3 separate regions of the Homo sapiens genome follow, and all the other regions are linked to region 1. The links come from fine-mapping of genetic effects on gene expression. A gene starts in region 1. Each other region holds a variant in brackets. All regions are shown on one strand. Distances are between the middles of the regions.

Region 1 (10,718 bases):
CTGGGAATCTCTGGAAACTGCTCACTCTGTATTCCTCATTTCCAACCAGTATCTGGACCAGATCCGCCAGACAATCTTTGAAAACCTGAAGATGCTGAACCATGCACCTAGTGTCCAGATTCATGACGTGCCTGCAGACCTCCTGACCTATGACAGGACTGATGAGGCTGATGCAGAGGAGAGGGGTCCTGAGGAGAACTATAGCAGGTCTGGGAGCAGGGACTTCAGCCTACTTTCAATAGGCTTGCTGGGGAGGTTTAAAAGGGAAAAAGTAAATGGGAAGGTATTAGTTTAATTGCCTCTGGCTTACCTCCTTTAGTCTGCTACAATTTCCTCACTCTTTTCTTTGTTATTTTTAATGACAAAAGTAACACGTATTTATTGCAAAATTTTAAAACAGCACCAAAATATGGTGTTGGCGTTCACACAATCCCAGACCTATTCCACAGGAGTAACCACTGTTAATAGTTTTTATTGTTTTGGATAGACCTTTTTCTATAGATTGCAAATATACTATTCTGTATGTACATATAAACAAACACATATACACTCATTTACAGTTTGTGTGGTTTTTGGTTTTTCGTAAATACAAATAGGGTCATTCTACGTATGCTGCTTTACATCATATAGCTGTTTTCAGCTAGCTAATATAGATCTGCTTCAGTATTTTATCAGCTGTATAATAATTTACTATGTGGATAGATTATTTTCCATTTTTTTGGTATTACAATAATAATGTGGCAATGAACCCCCTTACATTATACATCTTTGCATTCTTGTTTGAGTGGGTTAGATAGTAGAATGGTTGCTGCTAGGTCAAAGGCTGTGTGCATTAATTTTTTTTTTTTTTTTTTTTTTGAGACAGGGTCTCATTCTGTCACCCAGGCTGGAGTACAGTGGCATGATTATAGCTCACTGCAATCTTGAACTCCTGGGTTCAAGCGATCCTCCTGCCTCAGCCCCTCGAGTAGCTGGAATCATAGGTGTGCACCACGACACCTGGCTAATTTTTTTTTTTTTTTTTTTTTTTTTTTTTTTTTTTGGTAGAGACGGAGTCTTGCCTTGTTGCCCAGGCTGGTCTCAAACTCCTGGGCTCAAATGTCCTCCTGCCCCAGCCTTCCAAAGTGCTGGGATTATAGGCGTGAGCCACTGAGCCTGGCCTAAAATTTTTTATATTTGCTGCCAAATTGCCGTCCAGAAAGTCTGTAGCACCCTATAGTCTTGCCAGCATTTTTCTCAGTCTTTCCAGGTCTTGAGCTGGACAGGTCACTGCCTGCGTAATACTCTCTAAGGCTCTTTGATTTCTTTGCTCTGTTAATTTTTTCGGGTGGGATAATTGCATTGTGGTTATGTTTTTTTTTTTTTTTTAAAAGTCTTTATCTTTCTGAGATACATACAAAATATTTGTAGATGGAATGAATTAGGGGGGAAAAAGGATAGGATGGAATTTTTTTTTAATCCCAAAACTTTGCTGAAAAATGAAAGGGAAAGACAACAGAACCAAGAAGTGCAGAAACAGATGCACTTAATGGGGAACAGATTTCCTTACATGACTGAGGGATAACCACAGCTGGACACTTGTGGGACACGCTGTCTTGCTCCCACGCAGGGTTAGAGGTTTGAGCCGGCTCTGCTGCAGAGCCTGATGGGCTTCTCAGCCCCTTCTAGAATCTGCTTCTGTCTTAGAATTCAGGCCTCCGAATCTCTCCTCTGGACCTGGGCTTTACTGCTCTGACTCTTGGGGATCTCTGCAACTCTCTTCCTCCAAGGATATCCCCCGATCCCTTCTGAGTGAGGAAGTGTCTGAACATCTGGAAGTGTCTGGCTTCAGGGCTTCCAGGACTATTGGAAATTGCTTTTCATTGTCTGGTTTGGTTTGGTAAAACCTGTTTTTAAGTTCTTCCTTTTGGGTTTTTTATCAATAGCTCCAGGCTGGCATCTGGACCTAGTCTCTGCATTATAATAATACCAAGCCCTGTCACAGCCAGCAGAAGCCTCAGGCCTCTTCCTGTTCCTAAGCCCTACCTCTCTGTCAGGCCACCCACTGAGTTTCTGTTCTTCTTTGATGCCTATAGCTCCAGCTTGCATATGACTTGCAGAGTAGAAATAGGAAGAGTTACCACTTTTTGTAGGTTTGCCAAGCACCAGACACTACTAAGTGCTATCTATTACAACATATATATGATCATTCTGTTGCCATCAGACAACTCTGATGGCTCTTATTTTCAGATTAACACGGGAGGAATCTAAGGCTCAGAGAGTCTAAGTAACTTTCTTTCTTTCTTTTTTTTGAGACGGAGTTTCGCTCTTTTTGCCCAGGCTGGAGTGCAATGGCATGATCTCAGCTCACCACAACCTCTGCCTCCCGGGTTCAAGCGATTCTCCTGCCTTAGCCTCCCAAGTAGCTGGATTACAGGCATGAGCCTCCACGCCTGGCTAATTTTTTTTGTATTTTTAGAAGAGATGGGGTTTCTCCATGTTAGTCAGGCTGGTCTCGAACTCCTGACCTCAGGTGATCTGCCTGCCTCGGCCTCCCAAAGTGCTAGGATTACAGGCTACAGGTGTGAGCCACCGCCCCCGGCGAGACTTAAGTAACTTTCTGAAGGTCACATGGCTAGTTAAAGATCAGGGCTGAGATTCAACCTGATTCTCTGACTCCACACCTTTAACCCTGTGCACTTAGAAGTAACTGAGACATTGCTCACCATGCAGATAAGGCCTTTCCTGGCTTAGTGCCTCAGCTTCTCTTTGATGACTTTCTCAATTCTCTGTGTCCCAGAGAATACTTTTTCTTTTCTTTCTTTTTTTTTTTTGAGATGGAGTCTCACTCTGTTGCCAGGCTGGAGTGCAGTGGCTAATCCCGGCTCACTGCAACCTCCGCCTCCCAGGTTCAAGCGATTCTCCTGCCTCAGCCTCCTCAGTAGCTGAGATTACAGGCATGTGCCACCACACCCGGCTAACTTTAGTATTTTTAGTAGAGACGGGGTTTCACCATGTTGGCCAGGATGGTCTTGATCTCTTGACCTTGTGATCCACCTGCCTTGGCCTCCCAAAGTGCTGGGATTACAGGTGTGAGCTACCACGCCCGGCTTTTGAGAATACTTTTTCAAAAAGAAAGAAACCAATATTGAGTACCTGTTGGGCCCTGTTTTGCTTTCACATCCATTCTTTCACTATGGGTTTATAATACCACGTCACTCTTCTTAAAATTAAAACTCTCCTTTACCTTGCACTTAGAAGAAAATCCAAAATTTTGACTGTGGCTTAAAAAGGTCCTGCATGCTAGCCCTTACCTACATCCAGGATCTCATCTCTAACTACTCTCCTCCATGCACAGTGCTCCCGGCTGTCCTGGCCTCCTTGTTCTTACTGGAATACATCAGTCTCTTTCCATTTCATGACCTCTGTAGTTGGTTTTCTTGCAGCTTGGAATGGCCTTCCTGAAGTCTTTGCCTGCTTAGCTCCTCCTCAGACTTTAGGTCTTATGTCCCAATAGTCCTGTCTGAAATTTCACCCTTTTCCTCTCATCACCTTCAGTCCTATCACTTCATTTTATTAATTGTACTCTCCATCATCTGAAATTATTATATTTATTTACTTTGTTAGTTACTAGTCTCATTTATTAGGTAAGCTTTTTGAGGATAGACAACCTTGTCCAGCTTGTTACTCTACTGTATTGCTAAGGTTTATGACAGTGTCTGTATAGAGTAGTTCCTTAATGTTTATTTGATACGTGAATGGGTGAATGAATAGCAGTCTCTACCAACAAGAGGAGGAGTGGTTCTCAACGGGGCCTGAGAAATGGCTTTGGAAAAGGGTGCTGGGAGAAGATTAGAACTTAGAGTGAGATCCTGACCTCTCTCCCCTTGCTTTGCAGGCCAGAGGCACCCAATGAGTTCTATGATGGAGACCATGACAATGACAAGGAAAGCGATGTGGAGATTTAAGAGTGGCTTGGGATGCTGTGTCCCAAGGAATTTCTTTTCACCTCTTGGTTGGGCTGGAGGGAAAAGGAGTGGCTCCTAGAGTCCTGGGGGTCACCCCAGGGCTTTTGCTGACTCTGGGAAAGAGTCTGGAGACCACATTTGGTTCTCGAACCATCTACCTGCTTTTCCTCTCTCTCCCAAGGCCTGACAATGGTACCTATTAGGGATGAGATACAGACAAGGATAGCTATCTGGGACATTATTGGCAGTGGGCCCTGGAGGCCAGTCCCTAGCCCCCCTTGCCCCTTATTTCTTCCCTGCTTCCCTCGAACCCAGAGATTTTTGAGGGATGAACGGGTAGACAAGGACTGAGATTGCCTCTGACTTCCTCCTCCCCTGGGTTCTGACTTCTTCCTCCCCTTGCTTCCAGGGAAGATGAAGAGAGAGAGATTTGGAAGGGGCTCTGGCTCCCTAACACCTGAATCCCAGATGATGGGAAGTATGTTTTCAAGTGTGGGGAGGATATGAAAATGTTCTGTTCTCACTTTTGGCTTTATGTCCATTTTACCACTGTTTTTATCCAATAAACTAAGTCGGTATTTTTTGTACCTTTCGCCTTTCTAGGAATGTTAATTCTTGCTAGTTTCCTATTTATGAAAGGAGAGGGAAATGGGCATGATGATGCATGTAATAAAAGCATAGTTAACATTCATTCAGCACTTATCCTACGTTAGGCCCTGTGTATGTATTCTACATTTATTATTGTAAATATAAGAAGTTAATAGAGGATTTTGGTTAAGAGTTAGACAAACCTGGGCAGATTTGAGAGGAGTAGAAGATGACTTCAGGTTTTTGAATCTGGGTGTTTAGAGTAGTGATGCTAGTTGGTGAAGATACACTGAGATAAAACATGTTAAGTGCTTAGCACAGTGCCTGACAGAAGAAGTTGCCCATTATCTGTCTATGTGAAGAACAATGCTAAATACTGTAGTAGCCACAAACATGAACCTTTCTCTAGAAGAGTTTACATTCCAGTCAGTAGTATGATAAATATTGTAGCAGATACAGACTGATACAAGAAAGAGGACTGATAGATGGGTCACTTCCTCCCCTCCATTCTCTGATTCTGTCTGTTCTCAACACTAGCTTAGAAAGTAGCTTTTGGACTTTTTAGACAAAATGTCTGGAAAGCTCAGCACTAAGTCAAGTTTGAAGTATGGGATGGACAGCTCTATGTAACATTCTATCCGATCACCATCAGAAGGTCTGGACCACAAGAGAGATGAATGCCAAATTTAGGAGCCAGCCAGCTTGGCAGAGTCCCTGGTATATCTCAGGCCCTTGACTAGGTACTGGGGCTCTAGAGTAAGTAAGTCACTGACTCTGCCCTTCAGGAACTTATGCTTGAAATCTTGCTAGCTGTGGTCAAGAATATTCAGTCCATATTGTGAAGGCCGACTGGTAGCCACGTAACTGTCACACAAGGGACAGATGTAGCTGGGAGAATGGATGAAATTGCTTAGGGAGAAAGTCATGCTAGAAGAGCAAAGAATATACTCTTGGAGAATACTCATTCTTTTCACTCATGTTTGGTTTATGTCAGTGGGGAATCCTGGTTAAACATAGGGTTTGGCAGCAAATCAGACTAAGCTGGGTTTAAATTTTATATCAATTATGCGTTCTTGGGCAAGTCACTTCAACTCTCAAAAGTCCAAATTTACTATTTATAAAATGGTGAGGCTAGCAGAATCTATCACATGGGACTGTGGGGACTTAGAAAAATACATGTAGAGTGTTTGCCTAGTGCCTAGCAGAGAGCAAAGGGCATGGTTAAGTGGTAACTGTTATTGCTGTTTAGGCACATGTTGGCAATAATTAGTTTGTCCTGATTAGAAACAATTAGATGGTACCTAACCTGGAATTCGAACTAGGAAATTAAACTCCAGAGCGAGTCTGGTTTAGTCTAGTGCTTGCCCTGGACCGAGCTCTGTTCTTGCTACCTTGCTTTCAAAACATGGTGGCTATCACTATAATTTTTTTCATGTGTTCCATGGGTATTGCACACATTGAAAACTGCATTCTCTTGGAAAACCTGTCACTAATTTTCTGCCAGGATAATGGTCTCACGCGATTTTTGGTCTGGGATGTGAGAGGGTCCAGGCTGTCAGGCTGTACAGCCACGTGGGCGCTGCGTGGGAGCCAGAGGCCTGCGCTGCTCCAACCGCCAGGGGGCGGTGCTCTCCGCCGCGGCCGCGGAGAGCTGCACCGCCCACTCACCACCCCCCCCCACGTGGGTCCGAATGGTTAGGTCCGCTGGGCAGGTAGCGCGCTTCCGCGGCTTCCCTCCGCCCCTCTCCCTTCCCCCATTGGTAGGGGCTGCGGGTCCGGGCGGAAGTGGGGCAGGCGGGCGGGAGCGAGGCGTCGTCGTTGTATATTCATGAGGCGCGCGCAGCCCGGCATGCTAATGAGGCGGGGCGCGGCGGCTGGCTAAAGAGCGACTGGGCGGCGGCGGGCGCGGAGCTGCCAGGCGGGAGCGGCGTAGGCGCGGGGTCGCCGGCCAGCGTGAACCGGGACATGGAGCCGCCCGGCGGGAGCCTGGGGCCCGGCCGCGGGACCCGGGACAAGAAGAAGGGCCGGAGCCCAGATGAGCTGCCCTCGGCGGGCGGCGACGGCGGCAAATCTAAGAAATTTGTGAGTGTCCCTCCCATCCCGCTCCTGCCTGGCCCCGTAACCGCCCTCTGGACCCCTGCAGCCGGCCCCTGGGGCGCCTGCCCGGCTTTGGGGAGCCGCCCCCGCGCCTTCCTTCCTCGTTTCGCTCGGTCCGCAGCTCTGCAGCCCGACATCCTCTCCCTTCGGGACCTCGGGAAGCCCCGGAATCCCACCCGGCTCTTGCCCCGGCCACCTCGGGGCTTCCCTCGTTCCCCAGCCCTTACATTCTGCCCTCCCGCCCGCATATCCCCGGCCGGCTCTCAGCCCCGTCTCTCCCCTCTCAGCCTCACTTCCTTTCTTCTTCCTCCAGTACCCGAACACGCCTCCTCTTTTTTGGTCCCCTCTTCTGGGTCCATTTTCTCTTCTTAACCTTACACCTTTTTTGGTATTCTCGTATTTCCTTCTCCTAAAGGTCACTTCCTTCTCCATGATTCATCCTTTTTACCTGCTAACTTTCCTCCCGCCCAGTCCCCCGTGGGCCCTCCGCCCGGTGTCACTTGATAATCCTTCCCCTGAGGAATGTTACCTGACTTGAGCCCTACCCCCAACTCCTTCTTTGGACGTTTGTCCTTGCGATTACAGGAATGGGCTCCTGCCCAGGTCCTATGGTCACTGGGGCATGACGTTTATTTGTTTACCAGTATTCCTCTCTCCAGAGAACCTCTCTCTTTGCCCTGTTGCTTATCACTTTTCAGAGGATTAGAACTCTCATGATTGTGCCCTTCTTGACCTAGGATGGTGATAAACCTCTCCTGTGGGAAGAAAGTTGGACTGCGAGTTCAAGAAGTTTGTAATTGAATTGTTTTTTATACATTTCCCATGATAACCGTCTCCTCTACTCCTTTTCTACTGCCTCTTGTGCCCCAAGGCGACTATCGGCTTCCCTTTGCGTGCCTGTAGAAGAGTAAGCTTTCCTCAAGTGCCAGTTACTTTCAATCCGAGTGAAGGAATAGTGATATACATGTAACCCTATCATATTTCATTACCTTTTGCCCACACCAACGCCTCTCTCCAGGGAGCCGTTTGGTTGCTTTTTTGCTATAAAAGCTTTGTAAGATACGGGGCACTGTCCAGGAGAGGAAAAGTCTTGGATATTGATGATCATTATAATAGCTAGTTATAACTGTAGCTCTTTTGTCTTCTCTTCCAGGTATTTATGCCCTTACACTAGTGTATCTTTCTACTAAACAAATGGCTTGTAACTCTTAGTCCCACCTCCCAACATTTTGACCCAGCTCCACAAATTTGGGAAGAAAACTGATAAAGCGATGGAAACAGGAAGAAAATGTTGTTTTATGACCTAGAGGGTTGAGATGTTAACCCTGGAGGGTTAGATGTTTAATTCTAAATAGAATTAAAATAGTGACTCATCTCTTCCTATTTCTAGCAAGACCAAGTGCTCCTGGACTGCCCTTTCCAGTGATATCTGAGATGTCAGTAACCATCTGTTTTTATCTGGTGAACATCTTTTTTTCCCCCCCTAGAAATATAAGGTTAAGGGTATTGACACCCCCTCCTTCTTTGGTGACTAAAGCAGCATTTTTGTATGTTTCTTTAGGATAAGAATTGACCCCTCCCCCCCGTTAGCTTTCCTTCCAAAACTTAAGTTCTAGGGCTCATATTCCTTCTATTTCTGTATCTTTTTGTTTTGATTTTATTTCCATGAGTACTGTTTGACCTTCCTCACCCAAATTCCAGCTATTGCTGCTGACTTGTGGTGACCTCAGTGACTTGTTTTCATGTCTTGAGTAGAATTTTATATGTACTCTATTTTATCTAACAATTATTTCACGAACTTGTGAAGTCTACTATGTGTGTGGTACTGTAAGGTGAGAAACCTGAGGAAGCTCAACCCCTTTTCACCTGTCTTTTGGAATGTCCATGAAGTCTTCTATATGTTTAATGGATTTGGCTCAGGGTTGTAGGTATTTGCTTTAGAGAGGATGGAGCTGAACCAAGTTCTCTTTTCTTTCTGCGGTGTTAGTCTTAACCCTTAATCTGCTGAATTTTTAAAACTAAATAGCTCAGGTAATGAGGAAAATTGCATTAGTAGCTACGGAATTGGAAGGTTTCTAGGAAAGTAGTGCTGCTTAACCCTTTTATTGCCAAATGTAACCTATCTCAAGGCATCAGAATATTCTTTCTTCCTCTTGCTCCTTTTATGAGAACTCTGTGGAAATGAGAGATGAGGAGGAGCATTGCAATCCACTTCTCTTTGTGTCTGTGTATGTATACGTGGGTGGGTGGAGTGGGCGAGATTGCTGGTGTGCTTTTGATACCCGTGGCTTAGTTTTCTTGAACTATAGGCTAAAACTGAACTCAAAGGTCTTTCGCCGCCTCCACCTTTTCTAGAGTATGTGTCCTCTGGAACTCCATTAAGAATGTACTGTATAAAACTGCACTGGTTTGGACTAAGTGTGCCCGAAGGTTGTTTGCATTTGAGGGTTTATAATTCCTTTAGCTGCTACATACCTTTCCTGGCTTATGCAGGTTCTAAATACGGATTAACTGGTGAGAACACAGAGCTCACAAATTGTCTGAGATCTGCTCTTACCCTCTGAGGCATCTTGTGTGGAAAGGAGATGGACCCTCAGTTTAAAAGTGGTTGGGCATCATCTTTTAAAAACACATGATTGTTAGACGTGCTGACAGTGAGTGGCTGAAGCCAGGCTGCCTGGTATTACCCCTTGGTTCTTCATGAGTCTGTCTTCTCCTGGGCCATGAGCATACCCCTTCTCCGGCATTATTCCATTTCCTTTCACAAGTCCTTAAGATGAAGGAAAATAAAAATTTTAGGTGAACAGAGGGTTTTCTGACTTTTCAGCAGTGATCAATGTGGGTGTCAAATAGACTGATTTCCAAAATATACGTAAGGGGAATAAGTAGAACCGGGATGTTAGGAGGCTGCAGAGTATTCTTACATTTAATAGACTTTGTATGCACTCTCATATAATCGAGAAAGTGATGCATTGTAAGAGAGAATATTGCTTCCTGATTTAACTAGGAGCATTAGCGAGAATTTTTTTTTTCTTTTTTTGAGATGGAGTCTCGCTCTGTTGCCCAGGCTGGAGTGCAGTGGTGCAATCTCAGCTCACTGCAAGCTCCGCCTCCCGGGTTCATGCCATTCTTCTGCCTCAGCCTCCCCAGTAGCTGGGACTACAGGCACCTGCCACCACGCCTGGCTAATTTTTTTTGTATTTTTAGTAGAGACGGGGTTTCACCGTGTTAGCCAGGATGTTGTCGATCTCCTGACCTCGTGATCTGCCCACCTCGGCCTCCCAAAGTGCTGGGATTACAGGCGTGAGCCACCGCGTGCGGCCCTTTTTTTTTTTTTTTTTTTTTCTTTTTCTGAGACGAGTCTTGCTGTGTCCAAGGCTGCAGTGCAGTGGCGCGATCTCGGCTCACTGCAACCTCCACCTCCCGGGTTCAAGCGATTCTCCTGCCTCAGCCTTCCAAGCAGCTGGGATTACAGGTGTACGCCGCCACACCCAGCTAATTTTTGTATTTTTAGTAGAGACTGGTTTCACCATGTTGGCCAGGCTGGTCTTAAATTCCTGACCTCGTGATCCGCCAGCCTCAGCCTCCCGAAGTGCTGGGATTACAGGCGTGAGCCACCTCGTCCGGCCAAGAGAATGATTTTTACTATTATTAAAATTATTAAAATTAGTTTAATTTTGGATTCCTATATTGAGTTATGATCATGTTGCAGTTACACGGTCTTCTAAATGCAAAGTAATAGAGTATAAATGTTTAGTAGTAGACTCCTGTCCAAAAGGAGACAAATTAAAGGATGCCAGGCAGAAAGAAGTGGAGTTGTTCGTGCAGATTTCTGCTTATATCCTCTTAAAACATTAACTTTAATCCAAAAGTTTGCAGAAAACTGAAAAATATACAGAGAGCTTTGCAAAAGTTTGCAGAAAACTGAAAAATATACAGAGCGCTTTGTACACCTTTTTTTTTTTTTAACAGATGATGAACGCAAGGATTATATAGTTTGGAAAGAGGGAGGGGAGCCTACAGGAACGTTAGTGAGATGTTTGAGATGACAGAATGGTAGCTTAAAGATTTCCGCCATTCTTCCTG
Region 2 (10,718 bases), 210 kb after region 1:
CCAGTGGTTCACATATCTTCAACTGTGTGTGCCCATCAACCCAGTAGCAATTGTTCCCTCAAATGCAAAGGGTATAGAAGTTCACTTCTTTCACACAGAGAACAGGATGTTCAGAAGTGTTTATGTCACTATGCCTTCCAAGTATAGAACTCTTCAAAGATTTTATCTTTTTTCTTCAAAAATCTTCTATCAGAGAATCAGAGACAGAGACTGAGTGCAAAGGCAATAGTATTTCATTTATTTCTTAGAAATGTCTTTTTTTTTTGAGACAGGGTCTCACTCTGTCACCTAGACAGCTCACTGCAGCCTAGACTTCCTGGGCTCAAGCGATTCTCCCACCACAGCCACCAGAGTAGCTGAGACCACAGGCATGTGCCACCACACCCTGCTAATTTTTAAATGTTCTGTAGCGATGGAGTCTCCCTGTGTTGCCCAGGCTGGTCTCAAATTCCTGCGCTCAAGAGATTCTCCACCTCCACCTCCCAAAGTGCTGGGATTACAGCACACTTGGCCCTGCCTGCATATTTATTTATTTATTTTAGAGACAGGGTCGCACTCTGTCGCCCAGGCTGGAGTGCAGTGGCAAGATCAGGGCTCACTGCAACCTTGACCTCCCAGGACCAAGCAATCCACCCAGCTCAGCCTCCCAAGTAGCTGGGACCACAGGGGAATGCTACCACACTCTGCTAATGTTTTTTTTTGTTGTTGTTGTTTTAGTAGAGATGGGGGGTCTCCCTATATTGCCCAGGCTGGTCTCAATTCTTGGGCTCAAGTGATACTTTCCGATTCAGCCTATCAAAGTGCTGTGATTATAGGTGTGAGCCACTGGGCCTGTCTTCTGAATATTTTTAGGCTTTAAAAATATATAAATAAGATATCGTAAATTCACTAAGTCTTCGCAAATTTGAATAGATAGGTTACTTGTTTGTTTTCTTAGATGCCAAGACCACTGCTTCTGTTCGATAGTCAGAACTTGACAAAATATTGTGGCTCACGCCTGTAATCCCAGCACTTTGAGAGGCCAAGGTGGGAGGATCACGAGGACAGGAGTTTCTGAACAGCCTGGTCGACATAGTGAAACCCCATGTCTACTAAAAATACAAAAAATTTAGCTGTGGTGAGGGGCACCAGTAATCCCAGCTACTTGGGAGGCTGAGGCAGGAGAATCGCTTGAACCCAGAAGGCGGAGGTTGCAGTGAGCAGAGATCACGCCACTGCACTCCAGCCTAGGCAACAGTGCGAGACTCCATCTCAAAAAAAAAAAAAAAAAAAAAAGACAAAGACAAAATATCTTCAGTCTGGTGACATTATTTTACAAAAAGATAGAGCAACTTATGAACCAAATACATAGTGAAAACTATAATTGAAAAAACATTGAGAAAATATTGTAAAAAGCTATGGATTTTAAACATATGATTCTAGATATGAAAATAAAGTAGTATGCCTAAAATATGAGAAACTAGTAGACTATTAGATAAATCACACACAAAAAAGAGAAACTCACCGAAGTCAGAGTCTCAGGATGTGAAGTCAAATCCTCCCCACCATGAGGTGGAATTAAGGCTCCAGGAGAAACACTGCAAACCATGTCTTCATTGGAATGTAGGGGCACACTGCATTTTAGGAAATTAAACTCTTTTGTACCCGTATGTGCAATGCACAGATTATAAGAATAAGGCAAAGTCCCCTCACTGTAGTTGGGGGGAACTACAGGTCCAGACTTGACACAGAGACCAGGATGGAAGCAGTCCCAAGTAGCAGGGCTGAGAGAGCGTCGCAGGCGCAAGGCAATGGCCAGAATCACGGCGAGGAGGAAGAGCACTGAGATTAAGGCCAAGGCCACCACCAGGTAAAACTGCAGTTCAGCCTGGGGGTCAGAGAGTACAGGGCGGTCGCTGAGGTCTGGCAGTATCTCTTGCAAGTTGTCTGCGAAGACCAGATGAAGCGTGGCGGTGGCAGAGAGTGGCGGCTGTCCACCGTCACGCACAGCGACCAGCAGGCGCTGGCGGGCTGCGTCCCTGTCGCCTAAGGCTCGAGCCGTGCGCACCTCCCCAGTGCGCAGCCCCAGGCTGAAGAGTCCGGGCTCACTGGCCTGCAGCACGTGGTAGGACAGCCAGGCGTTGTGTCCCGAGTCGGCGTCCACCGCTACCACCTTAGTCACTAGGTAGCCGGGCTCTGCAGAGCGAGGTACCATATCGAAGAACGCGGAGCCGTCAGGACCCAGAGCTGGGTACAGCACCCGCGGTGCGTTGTCATTGCGGTCTCCCACCAACACGCGCAGGCTCACGTTGGCGCTGAGCGTGGGCGAGCCGTGGTCGCGGGCCTGCAGCGTGAGCGCGAAGGCGCGCAGCTGCTCGTGATCAAAGGCGCGCTGCGCGAACACCACCCCGCTCTGCGCGCTCACTGACACGTATGACGACACCGCCAGGGGCTCTAGGTCACTCGCCACTATAGAGTAGGAGATGTGGCCATTGAGCCCCAAATCCGGGTCAGAGGCGCTCACTTGCGCAATGGAGGCTCCTGGCGGGTTGTTCTCGGCCACGTGGACCACGTAGGACGTCTGGTCGAAAACTGGGGCGTTGTCGTTGATGTCAGCGACATACAAGGTGATGCTTCTACTGGAAGAAAGAGGCGGCTTGCCCCTGTCAGTGGCTACGATGGTGACATTGTATTCTGGTGTCTGCTCTCGGTCCAGGGCTCCATCTGTCACCAGTTTGTAGTAGTTATTGGAAGAAGAATAAATCTTGAATGGAATGTCTGTTTCTATATTACACCTGACTTCTCCATTTCCTCCGAAATCCAGATCCCGTGTTTTGAAGAGGGCAACAACCATTCCTGGAGGTGAATTCTCCAAAATCTGATCAGAGAGAGAAGTGATGATTATTTCTGGGCTGTTGTCGTTTTCATCAAGGATTTCTATGATTACTTTACACTGGGTAGAGAGACCACCTCCGTCCTTCGCTTCCACTTCCATGGTGTACCTTTCTACATCTTCAAAATCAAATGACTGGTTATTCTTAATCATACCTGTTTTCTCATCCAATGAGAACATATGTTTTGTGCTCTGGGCAGTGCTTCGGAAGTAGTAGTTTATCTCAGCATTGACCCCCTCATCCTGGTCAGTGGCTGTCACTTGCAACACAGGGGACCCAGGGGGCAGATTTTCACTAAGACTAATTCTATATTCGTCTCTGCTGAAAACCGGGGGGTTATCATTGGTATCCTTGACAGAAATTTCTATGTGAGCGGTGGCACTTCTTGGTGGGTCCCCTCCGTCCAAGGCAGTCAATATCAAGCTATGAGATCTCTGTTCTTCCCGGTCTAGGAGTTTCTCCAGAGATAACTCTGGGTATTTGCCACCATCGGAATTAACTCTAACCATTAATGAAAAATAAGGATTAGAGTTTATCTTATAATCTTTAATTGAGTTTATGTTTATATCAGGATCCGTGGCAGGGTCAAGCGATAGTCGTGTACCAGCGGATGCAGATTCGAAAATTTCTAAATGTATTTCCTTTTTATCAAATTGAGGGGCGTGGTCATTAACATCCTCAATCACCACAATGACATGAAAAATATTTAAAGGATTTTCCACCACAGCTTCCAATTGCAACTCACATCTTCTTCTCTCTTTGCATATTTGCTCACGGTCTATTCGGTTCTTCACAAGTAAGTCCCCGCTCTCCGCGTCTACGCTGAAGTGCAGCTTCTCCGCGCTCACTCGCAGCTTGCGAGCCGACACATCCAGGACACTGAGCCCTAGATCCTTAGCGAGGTTCCCCACCACCGAGCCCTTGGCCAGCTCCTCCGGAATCGAGTAGCGGATCGGCTCACTCAGGGTGGGGTAGAACAAAGGCAGCAGCAAAGGAAATAGCACCTGCCGCGGGCCGGCCCGGCGCCTCTGCGCGCAGCTCCCTCCCATCGTTCGCTCGGGTTCTCGCTGGGTCCCCGCTTTTCCAGTTGGAGAAAGTGCACTCTACCGCGCTAAAAGAGCATTCGGCCCAGGACAGGAGGAGTCCCGGGTCTCGGAGCTGGCAATCCGCTGTGCTGGGAAAGGTCTGCGCAGCCGGGAGGCTCTGTGTGGGAGCTGGTTTTCTTCTTTCTGTTGTTGGCTGCGCAGGGAATCCCAGGCCAGAGGCTGACGGATCCCCGGCGTCAGCGCTTGCTCTGCACTGGCCGACAGCGGCGCCCAGAGGCTCCGTGCGGGACAGCAGCCCGGTTTTTCATTTTGAATTCGGTCTCCGAAATGTATATATTCTTCGAAAATGCAGGTGTACATCCCCCTCAAATTTTGCTCTCACCATAATATTATAGTAGATATTTCTATGCTTTGTGTTTTAAATAAATCTATTATGCACAATTTCAAACTTATACAACAGTAGGGAGTATATATAGTGAACCTTCACATAGCCATCACCCCACCTTCAACAATGATCACCACAAAGCCAATCTTTGTTTAATATATACTGCGCTCCCCCATTATTTTTAAGTAATACGAGATATAGAATGTCAACCAATGCTTCTTTTTAAGATGAGACATTAAGGTCAAGAATTTTATCTTTCAGCTTATGTTCTACAATCTGTTACCAATGCACAATAAGTTAAGTCCTACATAGCCTAAGAAAAACAGAAATAAAGATTTTCCATACTCCATTCAGTCATCTGTCTGGTGAGCCTCGTGTTCTGGTTTTAAGGGCAAGAGACATTTTTGTGGTATCGAATAGTAACTACCTACCATGACATACAAGCCTTCATGGATATCTGTTATGTTTTCCCCAAATTAACATACATTTCAATATTTATAAATACTAAGTATGAAGGCTACTCCTCAGAACAGAAATTGTAACAATTTTCTTGTTGCATGGTTAAAAATATGAGCCTGAAGTATGCTTTATTTTTTTTGCTACCCACTTAAGGGGGAAAACGTGTTTGAAATAATTAAAATGTCTGTATGTCATAAAGGATTCCCAGACACTTCAGCTTTTTTTTCTTAAAAATAAAGCAACTGAAACCCAAATAATTACAAACAAATAAAACAATTCTTCATTTCCACAGAAATGCCAGCAGTCATCAGTGTATCTATGGATCACATGTTTAGCATAGAATTTTGAGTCAACTTCAAAGCT[T/C]ATTTTCAAATGTCTTGTGAAATGTTATTTACTATTTGAAACAACACTATGTTTAAAATAACATTAAATAATACATTATTCTCTTCCTTATAGCTAAAAACAGTAAAATAGTTTTAGAATCTTCCCAGCAGTTCCTGAGAATATTTTCTTAAATTATATCTGATATGCAAGTTCATTTCTAGACTCAAAAGTTGGAGAATTGAGCCAGAAATAATATATAAGTGAGAGAAATATTTTTAATTCCTTGTTTTGTCATTTCACAGTGTCCAGTCTTAGAAACTTCTCTTGAGCAAGCATATACTATAGAAAAGAAGAATGTCCTACTATTCTCCATAATTTAACATTAAAGCATTAGGAAATTAAGACCTTTGAAGATATGAGAATAAAAGATGTGACAACTTTCACCATTAAAGGGAAAAAATTGGTTTACTAGGGTTTGGAAGTGGATAACTGAAGTTTGAATCTTCGTCAGAAAATATCTGTAAACACAAACAGACTTTACACACTTGTGATCTGAAAAATATAACCTCAAAGAGGTGTTTTCCTGTCATAGAAATGGAAGAATAGAAGCAATAAATCTGGGCTTTCAGCTGTTTCTCTAAGAAGAATACATTTACCTTTTTATCAGTTTACCCTTACAAACATAGTATGACCTGAATAAATGATCGTAGGAGTAAGAATTTGCTGGGTGAGGTGGTTCACACCTCACCCAGTGCTTTGGGAAACTGAAGCAGGAAGATCGTTTGAGACCAGTCTGGGCAACATAGCTTGCTAGCCCTCCCACCTCAGTCCTAGCTACTGTGAAGGCTGAGGTGGGAGGATTGCATAAGCCCAGGAGATTGAGACTGCAGTAAGCTTTACCCACACCACTGCATTCCACCCTGGACAACAGAATGACACCCCCATCTCTTAAAAAAAAAAAAAAAGGAGTAAGAATTTTATGATATGAGTCCACTGCAACCAATGAAGCAACCCTACCCAAAAAGCCCACATCAATGCAGGCTGAGAGCTACCCCATGAAGTATGGTTTACGTTGACAGCAGGTTAATTATTATGAGAACATGAAAGTTATATCAGCAAATATAACTAATAAATGCCTCCTTTCAGTGTTGGAGCAACAATTAGGCCCAGTGAAAAGTGATGAGAAACACACTGATATCAACTTATACTACCTTAAGTACAGACAGTTAAAGAGAAAGCTAACTATAATAGAAAGTTAAGGGCCAGGCGCAGTGGCTCACGCCTGTAATCCCAGTGCTTTGGGAGGCTGAGGTGGGTGGATCACTTGAGGTTAGGAATTCAAGACCAGCCTGGCCAACATGGTGACACCCCGTCTCTACTAAAAACACACAAAAAATTAGCCGGGCGTGGTGGCACGTGCCTGTAGTCCCAGTTATTCTACTTGGGAGGCCTGTAGTCCCAGCTACTCTACTCTAGTCCCAGCTACTCTACTTGGGAGGCTGAGGCAGGAGAATCGCTTGAATTTGGGAGGCGGAGGTTGCAATGAGCCGAGATCACACCACTGCATTCCAGCCTGGGTAACAGAGTAAGACTCTGTCTCAAAAACAAAACAAAACAAAAAACAAAAAAAGAAAAGAAAGAAAGAAAAAAAATGAACTCACCGGAACCAAAGGGGTGTCTTCTATAGGAAACTTGGAATCAACAGAGACGCACAAAGGCTCATTTTTCTCACAGCTCTGCTGGCTGATGAGTGTGTCTGCATAGTTGGGCTGGGGGAAGATCAGGTGACTCTTCCTTGAGTCAGCGGTGAGGGAGAACTCCTGAGAATAGGTCTGTAGGAAAGCTCGAACCCCATCTACACCCACAAAGTGTGAGGTGGGCACACCAGCCAACCCATCACTGGTAGCCCGCAGCAGATGCGAGGAGTGCCAGTGCCTCAGCCTGAGGGCCAGCAGCGTGATAACGAAGGTGAGGAAGACACAGGAGACGACTGCCACAGCCACAACGAGGTAGAGGGTAAGGTCTGAGGCCTCCAGGTCTGCAGGGATCTGAAGACTGCCCAGGTCAGCCAGGATGTCTGGGATGCTGTCAGCTATGGCTACTGTGAGCGTGACAGTGGCCGAGAGAGGGGGCTGGCCATGGTCCTGTACAGCCACCACAAGGCTCTGTTTGAGCGCATCTCTATCTAGCAGGGCCCGAGCTGTGCGCACTTCACCTGTGTGCAGCCCCACCGAGAAGAGCCCTGGCTCACTGGCCTTGAATAGGCGGTAGGAGAGCCAAGCATTCTGGCCTGAGTCTCTGTCCACTGCCACCACCTTGGTCACCAGGTAGCCAGGCTCTGCAGAGCGGGGTGCCAGCTCCACACCAGTAGAACCATCAGTGGGGAGGGCAGGGTACAGGATTTCTGGGGCATTGTCATTCTGGTCCAAAACAAACAGTCTCAATGACACATTGCTGCTAAGTGGTGGGCTTCCACTGTCACTTGCCGTCACCTGCATTTGCAAATCTCTAAACTGCTCATAGTCAAAGGAGCACAGAGCATACAGCACACCAGTGTCTGAGTTAATAGAGACATAGGTGGAGAGAGGAGACCCTTGGATGGTATCCTCTGCCAAGGAGTAAATAACTCTAGAATTCTCATTGCTATCAGGGTCATAGGCAATCACGGAGAAGATGGAAGTACCTCTGGCGTTGTTTTCCGGGAGGTAGACTGAGTAGGAGGCTTGAGAGAAAGCAGGTGGATTATCATTGATGTCAGTCACTTGCAGGGTGATGTGAATTTCTGTGGACAGGGGCGGAGTTCCTCTGTCTGTTGCAGTCACCGTGATATTATATTCTGAGGCTTTTTCTCGGTCAAGAATTTGGGCCGTCAACAATCTGTAATAATCTTCTTCTGAATTTTCTAATGTAAAAGATAGATTCTCCTGGATAGAACAGACAACTTGACCATTCTTCCCGGAGTCTCGGTCATGAGCATTGAAAAGAAGAATTACTGTTCCCTGAGGTGCGTCTTCTCTCACTGGGCTAAACAGAGATGTAATGGTCACTTCAGGTCTATTGTCATTTACATCTTCCACCGAAATGAGCACTTTTGTCCACCCTTTCAATCCCCCACCATCTTCAGCTTGTATTTCCATTTCATAAAATGAACATTCTTCATAATCTAGACTTTTTGCTGTTGATATTTCCCCAGTATTTTCATTAAGCTGGAATAGCAGAGATTGTTTTTCATTAATTTTCCAGAATTTGTATGCCACTTTTCCGTTGATTCCCTCATCCAGGTCGCTGGCTGTTGCAGTAAGCAGCCAGGTGCCTGGGGGCACGTTCTCAAGGACTTTAACTCGGTAAATCCGTTGAGCAAAAACCGGGGCATTATCATTTGTATCCAACACTGTCACATGGATGCGCACTGTGCTGGAGCGACGCGGCTCGCCGCCATCCGAGGCCGTGAGGACCAGGTGGTGGGCAGTTGCCTCCTCCCTGTCCAGGGCGCGCTCCAGCACCAGCTCTGGGTTTATGGCTCCATTGTCTCCAGTCTGCACGTTCAGGGAGAAGTGGTGATTGGGGCTGAGCTGGTAGCTCTGGAGGGAGTTCACGCCAACATCCGGATCAATAGCTTCTGGAAGTGGATAACGTGCTCCAGGAACCGCGATTTCGTTAATTTTTACTTCCAGACTTTCGGCCTGGAACTTTGGGGCGCTGTCGTTAATATCAGTTACTTCTATTTCTATTCCGTACAGTTTCACTCTGTCTTCAACCAGGACTTTAAAGTTCACCAGACACCGCGGGCTCTGAGCACAGAGCTCCTCCCGGTCTATCCTACCCGCGGTGACCAAGGTGCCGCTGCGCGGGTTCAGAGAGAAAAGCTGCGTCCTACCTCTAGAGACGATGCGGACTCGGCGCTCCGCCAGCTCCCGGGGCTCCAGAGCCAGGTCCTTGGAGATGTTGCCCACAATATAGCCCTTTTCTGTCTCTTCAGGCACTGAGTAGCGAATCTGACTGGCCCTGGCCTCCCATAGCATCCCCAGGAGCGAGCATAGCAGGACTAATCTTCCGCGGAGCTGGCATTTGGTTGGAGCTGCCATTGCTGCCTCGCTTTGGAATTTTCTCAAAAGGATCTCTGTGCGCGCTGCTTCATCAGGTTCTTTCTTCCACCCTGCAAAGTATGGTGATCTTTTCCTTAGAAGAAAGAGGCTGAGTTTTGCTGCAGCCTGGGAGCAGGTTTGTGGTATCTGCCGGGTTTTGTGTAGCCGCAGAACTGGAAATCCGGATGGAGTCCTGATTTTCGCTTAGAGTTGATCAACAGCGGCGCTCAGAGTCCTAAGCCGTTACTACACCCACTGATGTGTAACATTATATCAGATGGCTGATAAAGAAAACACTACTCTCTTCTAATTATGATTTTAGATTTCTCCAATTGTTTCTTGCATTTGTATTTCAAAAGCAATCTATTTTTTAGATATCTGAGTTGTAAATAAAGTGGAATAAAATTTCTGTAAGTGTATTATAAAATCACAAACCATTGCTTAATATTAATTTATTCTTATTCTTGGTAGAACTTTGCACTCTATTTCTAGATATGTAAACTATTATAATTTCCTTTTTATGATGCTTCAATTTTTTCTGTGTATCTTAACAATTTTCTGAAGTAATTTTTATGTGCAATCTTGTTTGGAAGTACATTCATTTTTAATTTTTATACCTATATATTTGTAAATGTAAAATATATAATTGTATTAATACATATATAAGGATAGATTATCCACTTTGAAATTATTTTCTGGGGTTTATTTTGATGATAAAATTCCTGGAAAAACGTTTATTTTAAATTTTTGTATTATAAAAGTAATATTAATTCAGCAATAGTTACAGATGTTCTCGCCTAATATTGCTAAATATTAACAGGATTAAAGTTGGAAATTTTCACATTTTTGTAATTGCTTAAACTTTTCTGCTATTTCAAAAATGCTTAGTTTTTTAATGTGAATATGTAATGCATGCACAGACTGTGTTTCAATGATTCAAATGCATATACACTGAAAAGCAAGTTTCTATTTTAATCCTTCATCAATAAATTATGCAATTTTAAAGTGGTCTTAAACATTATTCTAAGCATCACTTAAACTTATATAATAATTTGGGAAAAAGAACACAAAATATACAACAAAGAAAACTACTGAAAGGTTAAAAGTAAGTGGTATTATAAGAAATCTCAGCACTTTGTAAGGAACCCATTTACTGAATCACATACTAAGGGAAACCAAGCAAAAGACTTATACCATGTAATGGGAGCTTTGTATGTACACAAGACTAGTAGTTTTTGTCTTAAAAATGGAATAATCCTGTATTCACCTTCCATCCTACAAGGATGTTGAGAAAACATCCAGTCATTTATATTTAAAGCTCCAAACGATAAGACAAATCCGGTGTCTTTTTCCCCTTCTTCAAGAATATGTCAGGATTCCGAGCAAGAGAAATTCAGGCAATAGCATTTCCTTTTTTTTGTAAGTTTCTTCTGGTAATTATATAGAGGTGGAAAAGGATTTTGCATCCAAGAAAACCTGGATAAACTTAGAAAATTATTTGGATGATTTGGACCTTCTAAGTTCAGTGAATCAGTCTCTCTCTTTC
Region 3 (10,718 bases), 19 kb before region 1:
TAATGCCTCCTCTGCTCCCCAGTTTTACCTCCTACAGTGGCCTGGGCCTCCCATCTCCTATGGGGGGGCAGGGAAAAGGGAAACCAAGGCAGCCTTCATAGGAGTTTGGGGGGTCCTACTTTAGTGCTGGATAGATCTGAGTTCAAATTTCTATTGTATGACTTGGGCAATGATTTAACCTCTCTGAGCTTGTTTCTTCACATGTAAAATGGGGATAATACCTACTTTAGCAGGCTCACTGTCATAATTAGAGATAATCGAGGTAAAGCCTTCTTCTTTTTTTTTTTTTTGAGACAGAGTTTCGCTCTTGTTGCCCAGGCTGGAGTGCAATGGTGCGATCTCAGCTCACCGCAACCTCTGCCTCCCGGGTTCAAACGATTCTCCTGTATCAGCCCCTCGAGTAGCTGGGATTACAGGCACGTGCTGCCACGCCCGGCTAATTTTCTATTTTTAGTAGATACAGGGTTTCTCCATTTGGTCAGGCTGGTCTCAAACTCCTGACCTCAGGTGATCCACCTGCCTTGGCCTCCCAATGTGCTGGGATTATAGGCATGAGCCACTGCGCCCCGCCGAGGCAAAGCCTTTAGTGCAGTGGAATGCAGAAGGTGTTTCAATATAAGATATCTGTTGTTATAATGTATATACATACAGCAGAAAGAGAATAGGAGTGGGCATCAGGAGAACTGGGTTCTAGCCAGCACTCTGCCAATAACTGGCTTCGTGATTTTGGACAGCTGGCTTAACCTGGGTCTCACTTCTAACATAGGAGTCATATTATTAAAAATGCCTACCTCATGGGGTAGTGGTGAGGATTGAATGAATTGGTACACGTGAAGTGCTAGCAGAACACTTGAGACATAGTAAACATAAGCGTTCAATACATATTGGCTGTTGAAATATTTGTCAGCTACACCCCCCCACCGAATGCAAGCATTTGGCCACTTCCTGTATTGAGAAGTGATGAGGAAGGAACTGGAGATGGGATGAGAGGAAAAGCTGGTAAAACCTCCCCACATGCCAGGAATAACTCTGTGCCCACCCCACCTCCAGATGCTGCCGTCCCCTTCTCCTCCCAGCTTCTCCCCACCTGCACCTACCTCTGTGTTGGATGGGCCCCCTGCACCTGTCCTGCCTGGGGGTGAGTGGAAGGAACTGGGAGCCTTGGGAGGCTAACAGACAGGAAGAAGGAGGAAGCTTGGACTCCCAGGTCACGCTCTGGTCCTCTCCGTGCCTTCAGGCATCTTGCTTGGTGGAGAGCACTTGCCTGGGCTCTGGAGCCAGGCTGACTGGTTCAGGTCCCGCTCTGTCATCTCCAAGTGTGTGGTGGGATTCTGAACCTGTCTTGGCCTCAGTTTATGTTCTTTATGAGGTAAGGAAAAGGTACTAGCTTATTGAATTCTTATGAGAGTTAAAAAAGATGCCTGTGGACTACACAGCATTGTGCCTGGCACACAGTAAGTATGCAGTCACTGTTATTATTTTAAAAATTAGCTAACTTCTCTCACGGTGTCCTCCCAATATGCACCTTTTGCTCCTAGTGTCCAGATACCTAGCTTTGTATCATTATTTTTTCTGATGCCCACTTTTTTTCTTTTTTAAATGTCTATAGCAGTTTTATTTTATTATTTATTTTAGATTCAGGAGGTACATGTGCTTGTTTGTCATATGGATATATTGCATACTGGTGGAGATTGGGCTTCTAGTGTACCTGTAACTCAAATAGTGAACATTGTACCTGATAGGTAATTTTTCAACCCTCGCCCCTGCCTCTACTCCTACCTTTGCCCCCTTTGGAGTCCTGGGAGTCTGTTATTTCCATCTCTATGTCCATGTGTACCCGTTGTTTAGCTCCCACTTATAAGTGAGAACATGCAATATTTGGTTTTCTGTTTCTGAGTTAGTTCACTTAGGATAATGGCATCCAACTCCATTCATGTTGCTGCAGAGGACATGATTTCATTCTTTTTTATGGCTGTGGAATGCCTGCCTTTTCTAAAACTTTCTGGTACTTCCACCTTGTCCACAAGGAGTCTCCCTCCCTGGAGTTACCACCATCTCCACCACCCCAAGTTCACTTTGCATGACTTAGCACTTAGTCATTTATTGTGTTTGTTGAGGTTTCATTATTGGTTTCTTGACAGCCATTGGGGGTGGGAGCACTATGCATCCTATCTCCCTTAGTTTTGTACCTTGAGCAGAGCTGATTATACAGCAGTTGCCCAATAAATGTTGAGGACAGTGGATAGAGTGATGGATTTTATGGTCTAGGATGGTGACCATTAATTTAACAAATATTTATAGAATGCCACTGTCCTAAGTGCTGGAGATACAGCATTGAACAAAACAAAGTCTGAAGACTGACTTGTGGTTCTTATTTCCAGACAAAGCCCTGGACTTCCCTGGGTTCCTGGACATGATGGCACCTCGACTCAGGCCGGTAAGGGCCCTTGCCTTGGAGGAGATTGTATGTAGAGGGGTTATTCCAACCAGTCCTGTTTTGTCTGCAGGGCTGAGGGAATAGACAGGGATACCCTTAAGGGAGAACTCTGGAGCACTAACTGTGTGTTCCCTACAGATGCGTCCACCACCTCCCCCGCCGGCTAAAGCCCCGGATCCTGGCCACCCAGATCCCCTCACCTGAAGGCCAGGGAAGCCTTGACCCCCAGTGATGCTGCTGTCCCTATCTTCAAGCTGTCAGACCACACCATCAATGATCCAGAGCAACACAGCCAAAAGCTGGAATCGCCCTTATTTCCACCCTCACCTCCAAGGGTGGAAACTTGCCCCTTCCCATTTCTAGAGCTGGAACCCACTCCTTTTTTTCCCATTGTTCTATCATCTCTAGGACCGGAACTACCTTCTCTTCTGTCATGACCCTATCTAGGGTGGTGAAATGCCTGAAATCTCTGGGGCTGGAAACCATCCATCAAGGTCTCTAGTAGTTCTGGCCCACCTCTTTCCCCACCCTGGCTCCATGACCCACCCCACTCTGGATGCCAGGGTCACTGGGGTTGGGCTGGGGAGAGGAACAGGCCTTGGGAATCAGGAGCTGGAGCCAGGATGCGAAGCAGCTGTAATGGTCTGAGCGGATTTATTGACAATGAATAAAGGGCACGAAGGCCAGGCCAGGGCCTGGGCCTCTTGTGCTAAGAGGGCAGGGGGCCTACGGTGCTATTGCTTTAGGGGCCCACCACGGGCAGGGGCCTGCTCCCAGCTGCCACGCTCTATCATATGGAGCGAGGTGTTGGGGAAGGCGGGGCAGGCAGCCTGTTGCAGGCAGGGGAAGGAGAAGAGACTGAGGGGCTGTGACCTCTCCTGAGGCCCCCAGCCTGAGACTGTGCAACTCCAGGTGGAAGTAGAGCTGGTCCCTCAGCTGGGGGGCAGTGCTGTCCAGTGGAGGGGAGGGCTTTCACGCCCACCCACCCCCTGGCCCTGCCAGCTGGTAGTCCATCAGCACAATGAAGGAGACTTGGAGAAGAGGAAGAATAACACTGTTGCTTCCTGTTCAAGCTGTGTCCAGCTTTTCCCCTGGGGCTCCAGGACCTTCCCTACCTCCACCACCAAACCAAGGGATTTATAGCAAAGGCTAAGCCTGCAGTTTACTCGGGGGGTTCAGGGAGCCGAAAGGCTTAAATAGTTTAAGTAGGTGATGGGAAGATGAGATTACCTCATTTAGGGCTCAGGCAGACTCACCTCACATACTCCCTGCTCCCTGTGGTAGAGACACCTGAGAGAAAGGGGAGGGGTCAACAATGAGAGACCAGGAGTAGGTCCTATCAGTGCCCCCCAGAGTAGAGAGCAATAAGAGCCCAGCCCAGTGCAGTCCCGGCTGTGTTTTCCTACCTGGTGATCAGAAGTGTCTGGTTTGCTTGGCTGCCCATTTGCCTCTTGAGTGGGCAGCCCTGGGCTTGGGCCCCTCCCTCCGGCCCTCAGTGTTGGCTCTGCAGAAGCTCTGGGGTTCCCTTCAAGTGCACGAGGGGTTAGGCTGCTGTCCCTGAGTCCTCCATTCTGTACTGGGGGGCTGGCTAGGACCTGGGGCTGTGGCCTCTCAGGGGGCAGCCTCTCCATGGCAGGCATCCCTGCCTTGGGCTGCCCTCCCCCAGACCCCTGACCACCCCCTGGGTCCTGTCCCCCACCAGAGCCCCAGCTCCTGTCTGTGGGGGAGCCATCACGGTGTTCGTGCAGTCCATAGCGCTTCTCAATGTGTGTCACCCGGAACCTGGGAGGGGAGGGAACACTGGGGTTTAGGACCACAACTCAGAGGCTGCTTGGCCCTCCCCTCTGACCAGGGACATCCTGAGTTTGGTGGCTACTTCCCTCTGGCCTAAGGTAGGGGAGGCCTTCTCAGATTGTGGGGCACATTGTGTAGCCTGACTTCTGC[C/T]GGAGCTCCCAGTCCAGGAGGAAAGAGCCAAGGCCCACTTTTGGGATCAGGTGCCTGATCACTGGGCCCCCTACCTCAGCCCCCCTTTCCCTGGAGCACCTGCCCCACCTGCCCACAGAGAACACAGTGGTCTCCCCTGTCCGGGGGCGGCTTTTTCCTTCCTTGGAGCGTCCCTGACGGACAAGTGGAGGCCTCTTGCTGCGGCTGCAATGGAGGCAAGGGGCTGCAGAGCCCAGGTGCACTGTGTGATGATGGGAGGGGGCTCCGTCCTGCAGGCTGGAGGTGGCATCCACACTGGACAGCAGGGAGGAGGGGAGTGAGGGTAACATTTCCATTTCCCTTCATGTTTTGTTTCTTACGTTCTTTCAGCATGCTCCTTAAAACCCCAGAAGCCCCAATTTCCCCAAGCCCCATTTTTTCTTGTCTTTATCTAATAAACTCAATATTAAGATGTTAGTGACCATATGTTCTTCCTCCCAGGGCTGTTTGCTAAAAAGAACACTGCTTAACCCAAAGGAGTGGCACTAGAGGTGAATGTTAGGCTTGATGATATCTAGATGAGAGAGATGGTTTGAAGGAATCGCGATTTCTACAAAACAACTTTCTTCCTATAAGTTAGCCAGCTTTGCCCTTCCCCCAACCCCATACATGCAAGGAGGCTGGGAGAGGATTGTGCTGGAGGAGAGGATACTCTCCAAGGCAAGCTAAGTCATGCTGGCCCTTGTTTCCAGCTCACCTGGACAGCTGCACTGTCCCTTCTCCTTCACTGTCCCCCAGCATCTCCTTCAAGGCCTCAGCATTGGCTGAGGGAAGAAGGAAAAGAGGGAGTCAGTGGAGGTGGAGGTCAGGGCAAGAGAAGGTTGGAGAAGAGGGAGCAAGGGGCTATGCTAGACCCACCTTCATTCTGGATGATGCAGCGAACAATCCTCTCTACTGTGTCCTCATTCATGTCATCGTCCTCAGCTGAAGGATGAAAGAGATTGGCAAGGAAGCAGGAATGAGTCAGCTTTGGGGGAATATTACCTGGTGGCTCCCATCATTTATTGCTTAGGACATACCCTTTTACCTACTTGCTATCATGCTGGACCTCAGCATTTCAGGGACCAGAAAAGATGGGGACACCAATGCAAGCCCAAGACTACCATCCAGAGGACCGTTCCTGCCCATGCTGCTTTCTCTAGTTTTGCTTTCAGAGTGGTGTCACCCCACTTGCTAACTCAAGAGTGCATCACTAGGCTTCCTGAGCAGGTTTGATCAGGATTTGGCCTGGGTCTGTTGGTCAGGGAGGCAGAGGTGTGGGGAGAAGGGTGAAAGGTGACTGAGCCAGGGTTCCAGGCTCCTCACTCACGGGGCTGAAGCTGGGCATCGTCAGGCTCAGAGCCCCTCGACGTGCGGCAGCGGTAGCCCTTCTTCTTGAGCACGTGGCAGATCATGAAGCCTACCAGGCCCATGAGGAAGAAGACCAGCACAAGCAGGAAGAGCATATATAGCCCATGTTGGGGCGGTTCCAGGTCAGGCTGTGGTTCCGACATGAGGCCCTGGGGGGCGAGCGCGGGCCAGGGCGCCTCCTGGGTTTAGGGGGCTGCAGCTGGGAATGGGGGAGGGGTAGGAATGCCGTCCTCAGGATCTGAAACAAGCACGTCTAAGACGTCCGGCTGAGGTCCGGCCCCACCCCCTACCCAACCAGGGAGCTGTCCGGGCCAGGAGTGCTGTTTCGCCTTTCGGCAAGAGGTCAGCGGCAACGCAAGCTCTCTACCACGACCCTGGTCCCGCTTCCCCGACGCCCCGAGCGTTCCCCTTTCCAGCTTGTTCGCGCTTCTGTCCCTCCCAAGGACACTGCAGCACGAGATGGGACGGCATTCTTAGGCGGCGGGAGCAGAAATCCTGCCTGAGTCAGCGCCCGCACCTCCTCCACGCCGGCCTGAGCCAGGCCTCTGCAGCCCCTTCCTCTCAGTACTCCCGCACCCCTCTCCCTTTTTGGTTTCTCCCACCCTGACCACCTGGCCGACCCGGTACCGGTGATTTGGTTCTGGTTCCGGCTTCTGCTGGGGTTCCGGCTCCAGGGGCGTCCTAGTGCGGCTCAGGGCCCCCGACGCCCTTCCGGCGCTCATCCCTTGATTCCTCCCCTCCCCCTTCGCCGCCTCACCGGCCCCGGGCTGTGGCTGCGGATACCCGCGCCGTGGCAGGCGGGGGGAGGGAAGAACAGAGAAGGATGCGGGCTGGCTGAGAGCGGTGGCAGGCTCCGGGCAACTCCGGCCCTGGGTCAGGGAGATCGCCTCCGCAGCCGCCCTGGCTTCCCAAATGCCTTCACCCGTCGCGGGCCCAGGACCAGGGGGCGGAGCGCAGGTGTGCGGGGCGGAGAGCGTGAGCTCTGCGCGCGCGTGACTGCGCCGGGCCCCCCCGGGGCAATGTGCGGCGCCGAGTCTGGGTCCGGGTAGGGGACAGGCGGTCCGGCGTGGGTGTTGTCCACTGGTCTATCCGGTACGCCTGGCGCAGCTCCTGCCCTCAGATGCCCCGACCGAGCGGAGAGTCAGGAATCTTCTCCGAGGGCTGGGGGAAGCCGGCTTTCCGCACCTTTGAGGGACGGAGTGGCGGGATCTTCGGAGCTTCCTAGAGAAGTGACCACGGCCTGCGCCCGGTTTGGGGCAAGCGGCTGGATGGGATGGCTCGGCTTCCCGAGGATCTGACCCCCGGCCGGAGACAAATGGCCCTCGCATCCTAGGAGCTATGCTGCCAGTTCCCTGCCCAACCCGGGACGCTCAAAGCCCCAGATACCGGGAGAGCTGAGCCGGGCGAGGGGCGGAGCTCCCCTGGGGGCGTGGCCTGGGTGTGGATGGAGGCGGGGCCGCAACGCCCAGTTCCGCAGAGGCCGGCTACGTGCTTGCGCAGCACGCACGGCCGGGGAGGGGCTGGCGGCGGCCGCGGGCGGCGGGCGGCGGAGGTGCGGGGCCTGCTCCCGCCGGCACCATGGCCAAGACCGTGGCCTATTTCTACGACCCCGACGTGGGCAACTTCCACTACGGTGAGGAAACAGGGATATGCATGAGGGGTTGGGACACGGAGGTTTTGAGGCGGGGTTGCAACTCCAGGGGTGAGAGCTGACGAACTCTCTTCTCCCCACCCCCAGGAGCTGGACACCCTATGAAGCCCCATCGCCTGGCATTGACCCATAGCCTGGTCCTGCATTACGGTCTCTATAAGAAGATGATCGTGAGTTCCGCCGCCTCGGCCGGGGGTTGGGGGGTGGGGCGAGCTGTGGCCGTAGGGATAGGTGGGCTGGACTGAGTGCATGAAGTGCGACCCGCCCCTAGAGTATCGGGGAGCTGGATAGAAGTCACCAGGAGTACCTTGAAAGTGCAGGGTGTTGGGGGTGGCGTCCTCTGCTTAATGGAAAGTACTTTCTCACCTCAGGTCGGCCACCCTCTGACTGTAGGCACACTAGCCCTTGGCCTAGGGTTAGCGTGATGTGGGGCTGGTTTGAAGACAGAAGGTGTGTTCCTCCTCTGCATTTTAGAGTGTGGATAGGGCCTTGGCCTCAGGAATTAGGGTTAGGGGAGCGGATATCACTGTATCAGGGTGTGAGGTTTACCCTCAGTTCCCACTCCTCTTTTACCACCTTTCTTTACCTCCAAGGAGCTAGGGCTCCAGGGTGGAACGATGCTGCCGTCTTTGTAAATGTGTATGTGCGTGTGGAACAGAGGCGATATTTTAGATATTCCTTTTTCAGCCTGGAATACCTCTACATGGTTCTGCTTAATCGCTATCCAGTTTTTCATCTACCAGACATACACATGCTGTCTTCCCAGCTTGGAATTTATGGCTGTGATATGGGATAGTAACAGTTAAGCCACGCCAGGCGTGGTGGCCCATGCCTGTAATCCCAGCACTTTGGGAGGTTGAAATGGGGGGGATCGCTTGAGGCCAGGAGTTGGAGACCAGCTTGGGCCACAGTGGGACCCACATCTACAAAAAATAAAAATAAAAAAAGTAGCCATGTGCGGTGGGTGTGCCTGTAGTCCCAACTACTTGGGAGGCCGAGGCGAGAGGATGGCTTGGGCCCAGGAGTTTAAAGTTACAGTGATCTATGATCAGCAGCCTGAGTTGACAGGGAGGACCTTGTCTCAAAAGAAAAAATAAGACAAAACAGCTAAACCCAGGCTTTATGTGTTGCTAGGGAAACTAGTGAACAATATGAATGAATGTTCATTGCTTGTGCCAAGGCACAGACAAATGGACTGGTCATAGAAAAGACTGAGGTGATGTTAGTGCAGGAATCTATATCCCTTGAGATTGTTTGCCTGTATGTACCTGTGTGCATTTTCTGGGAGAAGAAAAGCTCTTTCTTGTGCAGTTTTCAAAGAGGTGTGACACATCCCCCTGACCTTCCAAAGATAATAAATCTTTGATTTTAATTAGAAAGTTGACATATATCCCATATATTTGACTCCAGAAAGAAGAATCCAGAGGAAAGAGGACAGAATCAGAGCTTGGGGGAGGAGATGAGCATGGAGAGAACTGGGAATAGGAGATTCCAAGGAACAGGGCAGGTGGATCAGGGCTCAAAGTTGAGAAGGTACGATAGGCTGAGCTGGAGGTGGAAAGGAAAAGAAGTGGTCTTCAGGGGGCTCATTTGTAATAACTTACCTGGTTAATCGGAGTCTCTCTACTGACTTAAGGATTGTGGGATGAGGGGAATGCTATGTTTGGCTTCATATAGTCTCCAGGACTGGGTTCAGTATGGGTGGTCTGAGCCTGTGGAGTGGGGCTGACCCTGCCTGGGTTCATCTTGTGTCTCCATCCCGAGGTCTTCAAGCCATACCAGGCCTCCCAACATGACATGTGCCGCTTCCACTCCGAGGACTACATTGACTTCCTGCAGAGAGTCAGCCCCACCAATATGCAAGGCTTCACCAAGAGTCTTAATGCCTTCAACGTAGGCGATGACTGGTGAGGGAGGACTGGGAGTTTTGATGTCTAACAGTTTAATGCCAAGCCCTTCAGTGAGGTCTTTTGGCAGCAGTGGGAAGATCTCAAGGGGGGCCTACTTGTCAATGCATCATAATTCATTTTATTTGTTTATTCAATAAATATTTATTGGTCACTTGTTCTAGGCAGGCCCTGTGCTAAGTGCTGGGAATGCAGTGATGAACAAAAACAAAATTTTAATATCGTATTTTTGCTAAGTCTTATAAAGAGGAGGTGTATGACAGATTATGAGAGTGTATACGTGGAGGATTGTTTAGCTTGGTGGAGTGGCTGGTCGGTGGGGCCTTCCTAGAGGAAGTAAAGATTGAGCTGAGATCTGAAAAAAGAGTAGAAGTAATCAGATGAAAGATGGTTGGAGGGTGAGGGGAGAAGTATAGCAGGCAGTAGGGACAAGTGCTAAGGGTCTGTGGTAGGACTGAGTATGACTCATTTGAGGAACAGAAAAAAGGCCAAGTGCAGAGTATGAAGAGGAGGTGAACTGAATTGAGGCTAAAGAAATAGGACCTTTTAAAAGCAAACAGCTCTATTATGAATTGGGGTTTTTACCCGTAGAGTAGAGGGAAGCTATCAAAGTGTTTTAAAAAGCAAGGGATCTTAAGAGGGCTATGGGCAGTTAAAAAAACAAAAAAAACAACGAAGGAGTGGTTTGATATCATTAGGTTTACATTGAGCTTGTATCATCCATAGAAGAGTCAGGGTTAGACCCTCTGGGGAAGAGAGTGGACAACAAAGATAAGCCACACTCTACTCTATATCCATGAAAAAATAGTAACCATCACAGCTACCAGTTGCTCAATTCTACTTACTTTTGTTTTTAAACTTTTTATTAGGGAAAATTTCAAAAATTTCTGAAAGTGAAGTAGTGCAGTGACCTCCCATACGTCCATCACCTAGCTTCAACGCTTATGAGCAAATGGCCACTCTTTTTTTTTTTTTTTTTTTTTTTGAGACAGAGTCTCACTCTGTAGCCCAGGCTGGAGTGCAGTGGTGCAGTCTTGGCTCACTGCAACCTCTGCCTCCTGGGTTCAAGCGATTCTCATGCCTCAGACTCCCGAGTAGCTGGGATTACAGGCGCCTGCCACCATGCCTGGCTAATTTTTGTATGTTTAGTAGAGATGGGGTTTCACTATGTTGGTCAGGCTGGTTTTGAACTCCTGACCTCAGGTGATCCACCAGCCTCAGCCTCCAAAAGTGCTGGGATTACAGACGTGAGCCATCGCACCCAGCTGAGCAAGTGGCCACTCTTACTTCATCTATACTCCCTCATGTTAGATTGTTTTAAAGCAGATCCTAGATGTTATATCCTTTTATCCATAAATATTTTATTATGTATCTCTAAATGATACTCTTT

Evidence for each region.
Region 2: its variant is fine-mapped to the expression of DIAPH1 in lung (TOPMed, PIP above 0.99). The same link has a PIP of 0.9 or more in whole blood.
Region 3: its variant is fine-mapped to the expression of DIAPH1 in whole blood (INTERVAL, PIP above 0.99).

The regions. Positions count from the first base shown.
Region 1 is chr5:141,614,697-141,625,414 of GRCh38, reverse strand. DIAPH1 (diaphanous related formin 1) reads left to right here and starts at 6,415. Exons shown (of 28, transcript NM_005219.5): 1 at 6,415-6,617. The coding sequence starts at 6,501. It overlaps HDAC3 (histone deacetylase 3), which reads left to right. Exons shown (of 15, transcript NM_003883.4): 14 at 50-207; 15 at 3,878-4,534. The coding sequence ends at 3,947. RefSeq lists silencers at 6,061-6,720, 6,781-6,830, 6,641-6,837.
Region 2 is chr5:141,401,407-141,412,124 of GRCh38, reverse strand. The region is part of intron 1 of PCDHGA1 (protocadherin gamma subfamily A, 1); the gene reads right to left. All of the region lies in intron 1 of PCDHGA2 (protocadherin gamma subfamily A, 2), which reads right to left. All of the region lies in intron 1 of PCDHGA3 (protocadherin gamma subfamily A, 3), which reads right to left. The region is part of intron 1 of PCDHGB1 (protocadherin gamma subfamily B, 1); the gene reads right to left. It also overlaps PCDHGA4, PCDHGB2, PCDHGA5, PCDHGB3, PCDHGA6 and PCDHGA7, and 6 more genes. RefSeq lists an enhancer at 3,646-3,695. The variant T/C (reference allele first, on the strand shown) is at 5,127.
Region 3 is chr5:141,633,421-141,644,138 of GRCh38, reverse strand. HDAC3 (histone deacetylase 3) reads left to right here and starts at 7,290. Exons shown (of 15, transcript NM_003883.4): 1 at 7,290-7,403; 2 at 7,509-7,591; 3 at 9,186-9,328. The coding sequence starts at 7,349. It overlaps RELL2 (RELT like 2), which reads right to left and starts at 7,142. Exons shown (of 7, transcript NM_173828.5): 1 at 5,730-7,142; 2 at 5,279-5,344; 3 at 5,118-5,184; 4 at 4,490-4,675; 5 at 3,844-4,219; 6 at 3,694-3,727; 7 at 3,075-3,468. The coding sequence starts at 5,913. The coding sequence ends at 3,695. It overlaps FCHSD1 (FCH and double SH3 domains 1), which reads left to right. Exons shown (of 20, transcript NM_033449.3): 18 at 1,051-1,138; 19 at 2,382-2,437; 20 at 2,576-4,837. The coding sequence ends at 2,641. RefSeq lists enhancers at 5,734-5,853, 6,554-6,603, 9,841-9,970 and silencers at 7,114-7,403, 7,464-7,513, 7,523-7,817. The variant C/T (reference allele first, on the strand shown) is at 4,382.